Linked DNA regions of Homo sapiens: regions 2 and 3 are each linked to region 1. The links come from fine-mapping of genetic effects on gene expression. A gene starts in region 1. Each other region holds a variant in brackets. All regions are shown on one strand. Distances are from middle to middle.

Region 1 (4,246 bases):
GATCATGCCACTGCACTCCAGCCTGGGAAAGAAAGCCAAACCCTGTCTCAAAAAACAAAAACAAAAAATTCTGTCTCAAGAATTAAATGCATGTTGCTGAGTATCTCTGCTATCCATTACATGTTGTTGCCTAATAATACCTTAAACATCTTTTCTATTGTGACCTAGAATTATATTGAACTGTTCCACTGTTATTTAACCTTTCACCTTCATAAATCTCGCTAACATAAACTGCAATAAGCTAGTACCTGACACAGAAAAGGTGCTCGGTAAATATTTATTTATTGAACAAATAAATGAGTATTCTTAGAAACATGAACCAATTTTTTATATTTCTTTGCTATAGTTGTTTGTATTTCCCACATGCACAGCACCTTGCAGAAAACTGATATTAAAATATTGTTAAACATAATTTTCATTAAAAGCAAAGGTCAAAAACTCTTCTGTGATCCACCACTAAGTTTACTCATCCCTATTTGCCAATTTGCTCTTTCAGCAGGAACATTTCTGGCTGGAGTGATCTGCGTTCCATAGATGAAATGCAGAGAACATAATCAAGAAAATGCTCCAGTAATAATATAACTATAATTGAAAGCAGTATAAATAGAAAATTAATTGAAGATGCAGTTGTTGACCTCTAACTTCCCTAAATAATGCACCCCTTTAGACAGAGGGTAGTACTTTTCCACTAATGCTTCACAGGCCACCTCAAATTGCCATGCAATATTTCTAGTTGGATGAAAGTACAGTCACGTGTACATTCAAAGATGGACCACATATACAACAGTGATCTCATAAGATTATAATACCCTATTTTCACTGTACCTTTTCTATGTTTAGACACTTTTAGATGCAGACTTATCACTGTGTTACAACTGCCTACAGTATTCAGTATAGTAGCACCGCTGTAGAGGTTTATAGCCTAGGAGGAACAGGCTACACCATACAGCCTAGGTGTATAGCAGGCTACACCATCTAGGTTTGTGTAAATACACTTTCTGATATTCACAGGGATTAAATTGCCTAACGATGCATTTCTCAGGACGTATCCCCCTCACTAAGTGGCAGCAACGCATGACTGTACTTAAAAAAGCAAACCAGAAGATGGGGGTATGAGTATGACCCTGAATTCTCATTCACTCTCTTCGCAGGTAAGATCCAAGTTTGATTAATTCCAATTCTGATTGAGTCTGAATCAAAAAGCACATCAAAGACCACCAGAAAATAGTCAAAAATAGGTTAAATTTTGAATTGGTGAACGCTACCCTCTGCCTATTGAAAGGACTCCCTACGTATCTATGTTCATCCAGACAAGACAAACTCCTCTCTAGGGCATCCTGTGAACTATCAGTTAAGGAGAAAAGTTTACCCTAGACCTCTTCTGGACTGTTACAATTCTGGAAAAGCCAGTAAATTTTTAAACCTGAAGCACTGCTTTGGCCCTTAGTGGCCTTGAAAGCAACCACCTCTCTACACTTGACTCACTCCAACTACCGCACAGAAACGTGTGAACTTACATTTGAATAAATAACACCCTGCAAACACATCTGTTACATAAATGTCATTGGGTTGGGGTAAGATAACAAGCAACTTCTAGGAGCTAATGTGGGCAAACTTCTGAAAAGTGTGGCGTGTTTCAAATACGTCTTAGGCAACGTCCTATAGTGCAGGCCGGTCGCTCTCAGACTGTCTCCTCTTCAATATTCGGAAGAGACTGTGGGTGAAGCTGCAGTACAGAACCACAACACCCCTATTTAACGTAAAAACGGCCTTTTGGCCCTCAATCCAAACACGAAAAAACAAATATTGGAACAGGTCGCAAGACTACCGAAACGTCTGCCTCCAGGATCTGGAAGACAGTTTAACTACAATACCTCTCCAAACAAGGACTGCAAGATGGACACTTGAGACTCGCGACAAAGCACCACGTTTTCCAAGTGGGGCATTCTGGCAGGCACCACCGCAGAGGCCAGTGCAGCCAGCCCACAGGACCCTTGCACAAGACGGAGCCTCTCCCGAGTCTGGCGGCCCACGCTCCCGCCGGAAACCGGACCCGCAGCGTCGTGGGAGGAGCCTGCGCTGCCGGGCTGCGGCGTGACGGCAGCGCGTACGCCGAGCGTCGCCGCCGCTCTAGTCTCAGGGCCGGAACCATCCTCTTCTCGCTGGTCCTGTGCGCGCCGAGGTTTTGCCCATTCTTGGGCTTGGTGGGGATTTCGGGCTGACGCTTTTTCCACTCAAAGGCTAAGGAGACGACATGGAGATGGGCGAATAGGGAAGGGGTGGAAGGGGTTAAGGGGGTCCCGTGGGCCTCCAATGACCCCTGAACCCCGTGCCTTTAGTTTTACCGGCTGGAAGCCCCAAGTTTAGAAACCTTGAGTGCCTAAGAAGACGGACCCGGAGCTGGGGCCCTTAGAGGGACGTGGAAGGCGGACTTAGAAGACTAATATTGTCAAAAGATGTTTTTGTTGTCGTTTTTTTCCCTGACGACGTTGTGGGAAATTAGTGGCATTGAGTACAAAACAGGGTGTAATGGGGTTTAATGCACAGCTTGGAATTACTATTTTTTGTGCAAGCTTTAAACCAGATGTGGAAAGCCTCTCAGTCCTAATGGGATGAAGTCGTAGTGTGTGTTGGTGAGGTTGATAGTAAAAATAATGCTACTTTTAGCATTAGGCTTTCACGTGTATTTATTTGTGAGGCACCTACTAGCGACTAAACACTAGAAGATTCTGGAAATAAGATACAGAAGTAGGCAAGTGCATGGTGGAAAGAGAGCTTGGCGTCCTGAAACCCCTGGGTTGGGACCACTGACTGACTCAACTGCTGAATAGGGGGACTTTGGAATAGTTGAGCCTCAACTTCCTTATCTATAAAATAGGGATAATACTGGCTAGGTTATTGCTAGGAGTAGAAGATCCTGTACATACTACCTGTTATACATAAATTTAAATTGTGGACTTCAATCTGCCCATAGATTGTAGATCAGTCTTAGATTTGTGATGGTCAAAAGGATCTTTTGAGAGTTGTGGTATATAACGTATTAGCTAGTCAAAATAGTATTTTCACAGCAACAATTCAAAAGCATTTGCCCAGGTACTTTTTAATAGAGAATTCTAAAGGTTATAATGGGACCACCCATTAAATTTCAATGTCTCCAAGGGAAGCTGGCCTCTGATACTCTCCTAAGATGGTTATACGTCCGTAACATACTGTGCATATAAGGTATACATATATTATAATCATAACACGACATCTTTATAGCATTCAATAAAACTGACTAAACTGTCTAAAATGTTAGTCTCCCTCTCTATATACTTTATGAGGACAGGAAACACTGTCTTCACAGTTCAATTTCCAGCATACACAGTTAACGCCTGGCAGTTACATAATAAAGATAATTGTTGATCTGAGAGAACATGCCTTACCATCTGGATGATTTAGGATGGTTTCTCAGAGGAGAGAACCTGGAAGCTGAGGCTGAAGAAAAGATTCACCTGTGAGACCAAGAAGGAAATTGTAAACAAAAGAATGTACAGACAAAAAGGGACAAATGGGCAATCCCATAACTGAAACTAGCAAATAGTTTTTACATATAAACCTGGAGAGTAGTAGGAGGTCAGGCTGGGGACCAATAAAGAATTGTAGGCAGAGAAGCAAATGTTGAGATTTGACTTAGAAATATTCCTTCTGGCTACAGTGTGGAAAGTGGAATCAATTTCATTTGTTGAAACGACTATTGCAGTCTCCCAAACAGTGAATAATAATGGCCTCGATAGGCAGCCAAGATGGCCGAATAGGAACAGCTCTGGTCTACAGTTCCCAGCATGAGTGATGCAGAAGACGGGTGATTTCTGCATTTCCATCTGCGGTACTGGGTTCATCTCACTACGGAGTGCCAGACAGTGGGCACAGGATAGTGGGTGCAGTGCACCGTGCACGAGCCAAAGCAGGGCGAGGCATTGCCTCACTCAGGAAATGCAAGGGATCAGGGAGTTCCCTTTCCTAGTCAAAGAAAGGGGTGACAGACAGCATCTGGAAAATCGGGTCACTCACACCCTAATACTGCGCTTTTCCGACGGGCTTAAAAAATGGCACACCAGGAGATTATATCCTGCACCTGGCTCCGACGGTCCTACGCCCACGGAGTCTCGCTGATTGCTAGCACAGCAGTCTGAGATCAAACTGCAAGGAGGCAGCGAGGCTGGGGGAGGGGCGCCCGCCATTGCCCAGGTTTGCTTAGGTAAAC
Region 2 (4,246 bases), 22 kb after region 1:
AGGCCTTTAAAATCTCTTACTTGGTAAACTGGTTTAGAATTTATAAGGAATTCAAATAGGAAATGGCAGAAGTAGGGTCACATTAAGGACTCAACTATTGCAAAGATTATGATGTATACTACTGTACCCCATGTGTATTTCAAATAAAAACTATACTGAGCCATAAAATAATTGCAAGAAAACTCAATTATGTTATGATATTTTCTTACGTTAAATATATATTTTTGATATATCAAATATTAAGTTACTTTCAATTTTTGTTTGTTTCCTTGATTCCTGGTGTTTTGAAGAAATTATCTGACAAAGATTAAGGATGACTTTCTCCTCCTTGCAAAGTGTAAATTAATCATCTGGTTTGAAAGACTCAGAATTTTAGGCAACAGATATCAGTCAAAAGGTTTTTTTTTTTTTAATAGACAAGATTTTTCTAACAGACAACGTTACCCAGGCTAATTTTGAACTCCTGGCCTCAAGCAATCTTCCTGCCTCAGCCTCCCAAAGTGCTGGGGTTACAGGCATGAGCCACCATGCCCAGCCCAGACAAAGGGCTTTTAAACAATGTCCTTTTCTTCTTCTTAAACATTTTTGTTCATTTACAGTTAGATATTATCTACACACTGGTTTCTCAATTTTCTACTGGTGAATTTTCTTTTTTGAAACTATTTCTTAATTCTAAAAGTGAATTCCTTTCCTGCCCTCTGAGTAGCTGATAATGTCTATTTACAGTTCAACTCTGCAGATATGATCCGGTCATTGCTTACCTAGGGAGGAGGTTGCAAAGTAAATGCCTCTTTTTTACATTTGAGTTGATCAACAGTGAGAATGTCTAAGTACGGTGTTTCTTCTCTCTTATTTGGAGCTTTTAGAGATGGGCTTCCTCTACTGCTTATCATAAACATGACAAAGTAAACAGTGTACAGAAATTCCCAAGACTGAGTAAGATAAAATGATTCTGAAGAACATCTGATGTTTTAATTTCTTCCACTTACATTAATGTATCAATTATTTCTTAGAAAGAGGACACTGTACATCTTTCAGTATTATGGTCTTCTGGTACCTGTTTATCAATGTTCATCTTTTTCTCAGATGAAGGTATTACAGAATTCTTACATGACAAAGAGCCTAGAGTCTTGGCCAGTGAGGAATTTCTGAGGGCTACTTGAAATCTCATAGTCTGCTAGTGCCTTACTCATGCAATAAATCTGTCTGTTAGATAAACCAACACCAGGAAGAGAAAATGAGGAGAAATACACAGATTTGAAGGCAATTTAGATGGTATAATAAAACTTGTTTGGTTAAAGAGAGGGAGAGTACAACAATGACTGCCAGGATACTGAGTGGAGCAGTGGCCATCATGAGGTCAGGAATACTAGGAGAGGGAAAATGAATTCTGTTTCAGGCAGGTAGAATATGAGGGGCCTGGAAAACATCCAAATGGTGATGCCAAGTTAGCTAAATGATTCAGGAGCTCAGGAAAGCCATTTGAGCTAAACACTTAGATTTAGGAGTCATTAACATTTAGATGGTTGTGAAATTCATATAATAAGTGAAGTCACTCAAGGAGAATGGATAGAATGAGAAGATAAAAGAAGGAGAGTATGGAAGCCTGAGAAACATTAGCATTCAGAAGTGAGCAAAAAATAGAGGAGTATCAGATGGAGAAGGCCTAGGCAGCCAGAGAAATTACAGAAAAATTAGGAATGAAGAAAGAGGTGTCATAAAAACTA[C/A]GAAAGATTTAAGTAAAAGGGAATAATCAGCAGTGTTAAATGGCGCAGAAGGTCAAATGAGACATGTACTGGGAATTGTATTAACCCATCCTCTCATTGCTATAAAGAAATATCTGAGACTGGGTAATTTATAAGGAAAAGAGGTTTAATTGGCTCATAGTTCCACAGGCTGTACAACAAGCATGGCAGCATCTGCTTCTGGGGAGGCCTCAGGGAGCTTTTACTCATGTCAGAAGGCAAAGCAGGAGTAAGCTGTCTTCACATGGCTGGAGCAGCAGTAAAGGTGTGGGGAGATGCCACATGATAACTCACTGATTATCATGAGAACAGCACCAAGGAGAAGGTGCTAAACCATTTATGAGAATGCTAAACCATCTCATGATGGTGAAAACCATTCATGAGAAGCTGCCCTCATGATCTAGTCACCTCCCACCAGGCCCTACCTCCAACACTGGGGATTATAATTTGACGCGAGATTTGTTCAGGGACACAGATCCAAACCATATCAGGAACATATTACATGTACTGTTTTGTAGATTGCTTTACTCCTTACAGGAAATTGTGAATATGTTTTAATTTCAGGAACTACAGATCTCCAGTGTAATTTAAAATGGCTACAACATAGCTGTTACATAGAATTCATTTGCATAGGTGCACCGTGATTTATTTATCCAACCACCAACTAAACCTTAAAGTTATTCTCAATTTTTCCTTTTATAAAAATTTCTCTGAATATGTTTGTATATAGATCTTGATGTGTTCAATTATTTTCTTGGGTTAACATCCTAGAATTGGAATTACTAGGACAAAATGTCTATAGAGTTTGAAGACTTTTAATGTATTTACCAAACTGCCTTTCAGTAAGCTGATTCTGAAACTTCTAGATTAAACCAGGGAGACTGGAAAAGGGGTAGGTGGTCAGTAGTGTCACCTGATTCTGGGCAGAAAAAAAATGGACATCCTCTAGAGAGAAGCATCTATGGATGGGAACTCCATAGATTAAGATCAAACAATTGCAGGGCCTACTATTGCTGGAAAAATTGCTGGACTGACCAAAGAGGAGGGGGCAGGCATGCCCTCCCCATTCTTGAACAGTATTGACGTGAGCTTTCCCTGAGCCAGAGGCTGCACCATCTGGAGACAGCATGCCAAATTAGGAAAATCCCTCAATTGAGTGGAGGGGTTGTCAAGGACAGTGATGAGGTCTGGCTCTGGGCCCATTTCCTTGGGTGTTCGTAGGCAGCTGCAGCTGTGGGATAGAGAAAGAAAAAAGCAGAGGACTGATAGAAAAACCCTGACTGGATGCACGAAAGCTTCTGGGGCTGGGTAAACGGGAAAGAAAAAAGCTGGAGCAGTTTTTTTGGGGGACTGGGGGACCTCTTGGAAAGTCAGTGAGGAGGGAAGAAAGCCATGAGGAAGACAATGGGCAAGAAGGTCCTGGGGATGGCGAAATTCGATTCTCCTTAGAGATCAAGGAAATTGTCCTTGCCCTCCAAATCCACAGCCTCCCAGTCCTAGAAGGTGAGTGTGACCCGGCCAGGCCTCACGCTGGCCCCATCCACCCAACCCTGGTGCCGCCCTGCAAACCAGCGCTAGCAGAGAGCCAGAGGATTCCTACCCTGGTCGTGTCTGTTTGGACTGGAGGACACGTGTGGGGCTTGGTCGTCTGCTTCATCCGCCCTCCTTTCCCGCTCCAGGGGGGTCGCTGATGCTCAAAGCAGGGAGCACACTTCTTACCGGACTTAGTTTTTGGTCTTTTGCTAAATCTTGACAGTTCATCACGACTCCCTGCTGATGGCTTCCAGAGTGGAGGGCCAAGTCTGACCGGAATGCCGTCTGAAATGGGAATGAAGGATCGAAATTGTGGGAGAAGTCTCTGCCCGCGACCCCTGTCCCCTGGCCGTAGTCCTGGTCACCCGGGAAAGGACCTCAGCTGATTGCTGAGAGGAAGATTCAGATACTGAAGGTAGCGCTGCAGCTACTCGGCTCTGCCTCTAGATGTCACCCTTGGAGTCAAAATAACAACTGGCTCCCGAGAGCTGCTCACATCACAAGGAAAGGACCCAGAATGTGCCTTGCCCCTCAGGGATTTAACAAACCCCAACTGGTGAATTAGACATATCCGAACCCCAAAATAAAGGACCTGGGGTGCAAGGGGAAGCAAATAACTGCTCACTCTCTCTCCTCCCGTGTCAGGTATGTGAGGAGAGCTGAGGTTAGAGGATGGAATGATGGTACCGCAATGAAAGTAACTGATAGAGATTCCAGGACTCTCTTTTGCCTGGACAATGAACTAGTTTGGGCAGGAGCTACCTTCCACCCGCAACAGGAACGGCTGCAACTTCTTACTGGCCCCAAGACTTCTAAAGTGCTAGGCAGCTGGGTTTCCCAGAAAATTCCTGTAAACAGCTAACATCTAAATTAAGTCAACATCAAAATGAGCATTTCCCTATCACCAAGTAATCTATAGTTGGCCCACTGAAAAGATTATTCTTATGCTCTCTCAATTAAAAAAAAAA
Region 3 (4,246 bases), 28 kb before region 1:
CTAAAAGTAACCTTAACAATTCTAACATATATAATTCTGTACACAAAGTATACCCCCAAAAATAAGATGTGTTTTTAATGAGAATTATTGTTTTTTTAAATTTTACTTTAAGTTCTAGCATACACGTGCAGAACGTGCAGGTTACATAGGTATACATGTGCCATGGTGATCTACTGTACCTTTCGTCCCATCATCTCAGTTTTAAGCCCTGCATGCATTAGGTATTTGTCCTAATGCTCTCCCTCCCCTTGCCCTCCACCCCGCAAAAGGCCCCAGTGTGTGATGTTCCCCTCCGTGTCCATGTGTTCTCATTGTTCAACGTCCACTTAGAGTGAGAACATGCAGTGTTTGGTTTTCTGTTCCTATGTTAGTTTGCTGAGAATGATGGCTTCCAGCTTCACCTATGTCCCTGCAAAGGACATGAACTCATCCTTTTCATGGCTGCATAGTATTCCATGGTGTTTATGTGCCACATTTTCTTTATCCAGTCTATCATTGATGGGCATTTGGGTTGGTTCCAAGTCTTTGCTATTGTGAATAGTGCTGCAATAAACATAGGTGTGCATTTGTCTTTATAGTAGAATGATTTACAATCCTTTGGGTATGTACCCAGTAATGGGATTGCTGGGTCAAATGGTATTTCTGGTTCTAGACCCCTGAGGAATCACCACACTGTCTTTCACAATGGTTGAACTAATTTACACTCCCACCAACAGTGTAAAAGCATTCCTATTTCTCCACAGCCTCACCAGCATCGTTTCCTGACTTTTTAACAATAGCCATTCTAACTGGCTTGAGATGGTATCTCATTATGGTTTTGATTTTCATTTCTCTAATGACCAGTGCTGATGAGCTTTCTTCATGTTTGTTGGCCACATAAATGTCTTCTTTTGAGAAGTGTCTGTTCATATCCTTTGCCCACTTTTTGATGGGGTTGTTTTTTTCTTGTAAGTTTGTTAAAGTTCCTTGTGGATTCTGGATATTAGACCTTTGCCAGATGGGTAGCTTGCAAAAATTTTCTCCCATTCCATAGGTTGCTTGTTCATTCTGATGATAGTTTCCTTTGCTGTGTAGAAGCTCTTTAGTTTGATTAGATCCTATTTGTCAATTCTGGCTTTTGTTGCAATTGCTTTTGGTGTTTTATTCATGAAGTCTGTGCCCATGCCTATGTCCTGAATGGTGTTGCCTAGGTTTTCTTCTAGGGTTTTTATGGTTTTGGGTTTTACATTTAAGTCTTTACTTCATCTTAATTTTTGTATAAGATGTATGAAGGGGTCCAGTTTCTGTTTTCTGCATACAGCTAGCCAGTTTTCCTAGCACCATTTATTAATAAGGTTACTAAAAGTTACCTTAACAATTCTGATTAACATATATAATTCTGTACACAAAGTGTATCCCGAAACATAAGATGTATTTTTAATGAGAATTCTTACAAAGCCAAAAAAAAGTGTTCTTTATTGAGAAAAAAGAATAATTTTGTCAAAATTCTGAAGGTTATTTAAGGTTATTTTAGAAAGTAAATTTAAGAAAACAGAAACATGACAGAAAGGAACCAGTAAGTAGGAGACACAGATGTGCAAAGTTAAGGGTATAAAGATGTATTTTTGGTAAAAGAAGGTTAAAAAGAAAAGTGAATTTTTTTTTTTTTTTTTTTTTAAGAGACAGGGTCTCACCATGTTTCCCAGGCTGGTCTTGAACTCCCATGCTCAAGCAATTGTCCTGCCTTGGCCTCCCAAAGTGCTGGAATTATATGTGTGAAGCATCACACCCAGTCAAAAAAAAGGATAAATTTGAGAAATAATTTTGTGTGGTAAATAGTTTGTCCTAAATGTAGTTATTTAAAAGTATAAGAAAATAACTAAAGATCTAAGCATGTCATGGATGGTTTACGTAAGTCATTACAAGGTTTGTGAAGGGTAGATTTATTAAATTTGTGTGTGATCAAGCTGGCTGTAATTAGAAGGGAATTATTTGTAAGTCTTTCCAAAGATTAAACTTCGACATAAATATATCCCTCAATCCACAATATAAAACTAAAACTTTGGTCCACTATATTAGAAAGAAGTTTTTTTTTTTCCTAAGTATTGATCTGCTCTTAGTAAAAATTAGAGGTTTTCACTTTGAATTCTGAAATCTGCTTCTTAATAGCCATCTTCTAAACTGCAGTTTTTTTTGTTGTTTTTTTTTTCTGTTTCACAGTCTTCATTTAATTTTCTAGTTTCAC[G/A]TTAGTAAAGCTGTCTTCTTCACTTAGGATGGTAATTTCATTTCTTGAGGTAGAGTTTTCCTCTTAAAGCTTCTCAGACTTATATCTCAGAAGTTTAATGTTTGCTGCATCTTACTGCATGTCATACATCACTGCTTTCAACTCTTTCTCCCCTTGAGAAAGTACACCTTTAATCTTGATTGAGGTGATAACTCTCTCTTTTAACTTTTTCATCAGCTCCTGTCACTTTTTTCCTCTGATTATAACTCTGCTGTTAAAGTCTAACTCTAAAATGTTTGTCTTGATGGCCTACAAAAGCAATGTTTTCCTCCAGTATAACTTGATTCTGTACACTTGGCTTTTCTTAATGTGTCTGAATTATTCCATGTAACCAGAAAAGTTCCCATGCTGTTACTAAAAGCCATGTACTTCCCTGCTCAAGGTACTAGTTTTCTGTTTACACTCATAGTGTGTTCTCACAAGCTTGACCACACATTCTTCCTGTGTCTGATTAAATTCAAGTACTGTTTTCACTGGGTTCAACTTCCAGGTTATCTAAATGGGCTTCCCATAAGGAGAAGCAATCATACTGCAAGAGGTTTTTCTTTACTTTTTTGGTAACTGTCCCAAGAAACAAATATTTTGCATTTTATCAAGATAACTTTCTGTGTTTTCTTACTAGTTTTTTATTTTTTATTACTCAGGAAAATAGCTTTGAAAGGGTTAATGTTTTTTAAATCCAGGTAACTTTCTATATTGCTTTTGAAGTCCTCTGATTATCATTCTGGTTAAATGAATGACTATCATTTCACAGTGACCTGTGATCCTGTTTTGATCAGGTGTTTTAAACCTTTTCACATCTTTGATAGACCTCCCTCCCCAATATCAAAATTCTAAATTAAATATTTTTGACCTAGAACTAACTTGGATTTTCTAGCTAGGCCCCTGGAAAGCCTCAAAAGACATATTTTTCATATTGTAAAGATATTAAATGATTAAATTTATTTTGTAAATTGTGTAAGAAGCATTGCCAAATGGTAAGTAATACTGGATCTTCTTTCAGTTATATTTATAGGTATGTGTTTAATATCAGTGTAAAATTACATAAAACTTAGAGATCTAATATATCATCAAGTCATAATTGTGGTCATTATATGTATGCCACAAAAATCATCAAATTTCCTTGTCAATTTCTGATTATGGTAAACTTTCATCAAATTTTTATCCATGGCTATTCTAAGTCTCTGTCATCCTACAGTTATTGTTCTGATTTTTATCTAAAAGCATTTGCAATCAGATTCATAAAATAAGATTCTAACAAGTACTCTTAAATACAAGTTTCTAGTAACTTAAAGATCAATGGACTCAATAAAAATCTATCAGAACTCTAATGAAGAAATGATGGGCTCATGAAACTGCTAATCAAGATCAAACAGAACAAAAATTAATTACATGAGATTGAATAACTGATGAGGATGTTTTTATGATTTTTATTTGAAACATTAGTTTTTTGCTTGTTTTTGTTTTCCAGATTTGAGAAAATTTTCTCTCTTAATCTACCTATAGTTTATAGTTTTATGGAACTGCTAATTAGCAATTTAGTAAAGTATATTTTGTGAACCAAGGTGAAGCACCTGCTTTTTCTCCCCATTTCATTCCTCTAAAATTCAAAAACTATTCATGGGTATTTTTTTTCTCCTTGAAAATATGTTTATTCACTAAGTTCAATAAGAATTTGCTCTCTCTTTATAACAGGATATAATTGGAAACACTGGTTATATTACCAAGACTTTGACTGTCATATCATATTAGAAAATGTGCACAGAGGCCGGGTGTGGTGGCTCACGCCTGTAATCCCAGCACTTTGGGAGGCCAAGGCAGGCAGATCACGAGGTCAGGAGATCAAGACCATCCTGGCTAACACGGTGAAATGCTGTCTCTACTAAAAATACGAAAAAAAAAAATTTAGCCAGGTGTGGTGGTGGGCACCTGTAGTCCTAGCTACTCGGGAAGCTGAGGCAGGAGAATGGCGTGAACCCGGGA

The links. PIP is the estimated chance that this variant, and not a neighbour inherited with it, causes the effect. A credible set is the group of variants that fine-mapping cannot tell apart.
Region 2: its variant is the best candidate, but not a certain one, in a credible set for the expression of ORC5 in whole blood (TOPMed, PIP 0.64).
Region 3: its variant is the best candidate, but not a certain one, in a credible set for the expression of ORC5 in whole blood (TOPMed, PIP 0.68).

Annotation. Positions count from the first base shown.
Region 1 is chr7:104,205,959-104,210,204 of GRCh38, forward strand. It overlaps ORC5 (origin recognition complex subunit 5), which reads right to left and starts at 2,055. Exons shown (of 14, transcript NM_002553.4): 1 at 1,875-2,055. The coding sequence starts at 1,946. RefSeq lists enhancers at 1,714-1,903, 1,944-2,023, 2,074-2,233.
Region 2 is chr7:104,227,886-104,232,131 of GRCh38, forward strand. No RefSeq gene overlaps it. Among named protein-coding and RNA genes, the nearest start is that of ORC5, 22 kb to the left of the region's middle. The variant C/A (reference allele first, on the strand shown) is at 1,728.
Region 3 is chr7:104,177,475-104,181,720 of GRCh38, forward strand. The region is part of intron 8 of ORC5 (origin recognition complex subunit 5); the gene reads right to left. Among named protein-coding and RNA genes, the nearest start is that of ORC5, 28 kb to the right of the region's middle. The variant G/A (reference allele first, on the strand shown) is at 2,225.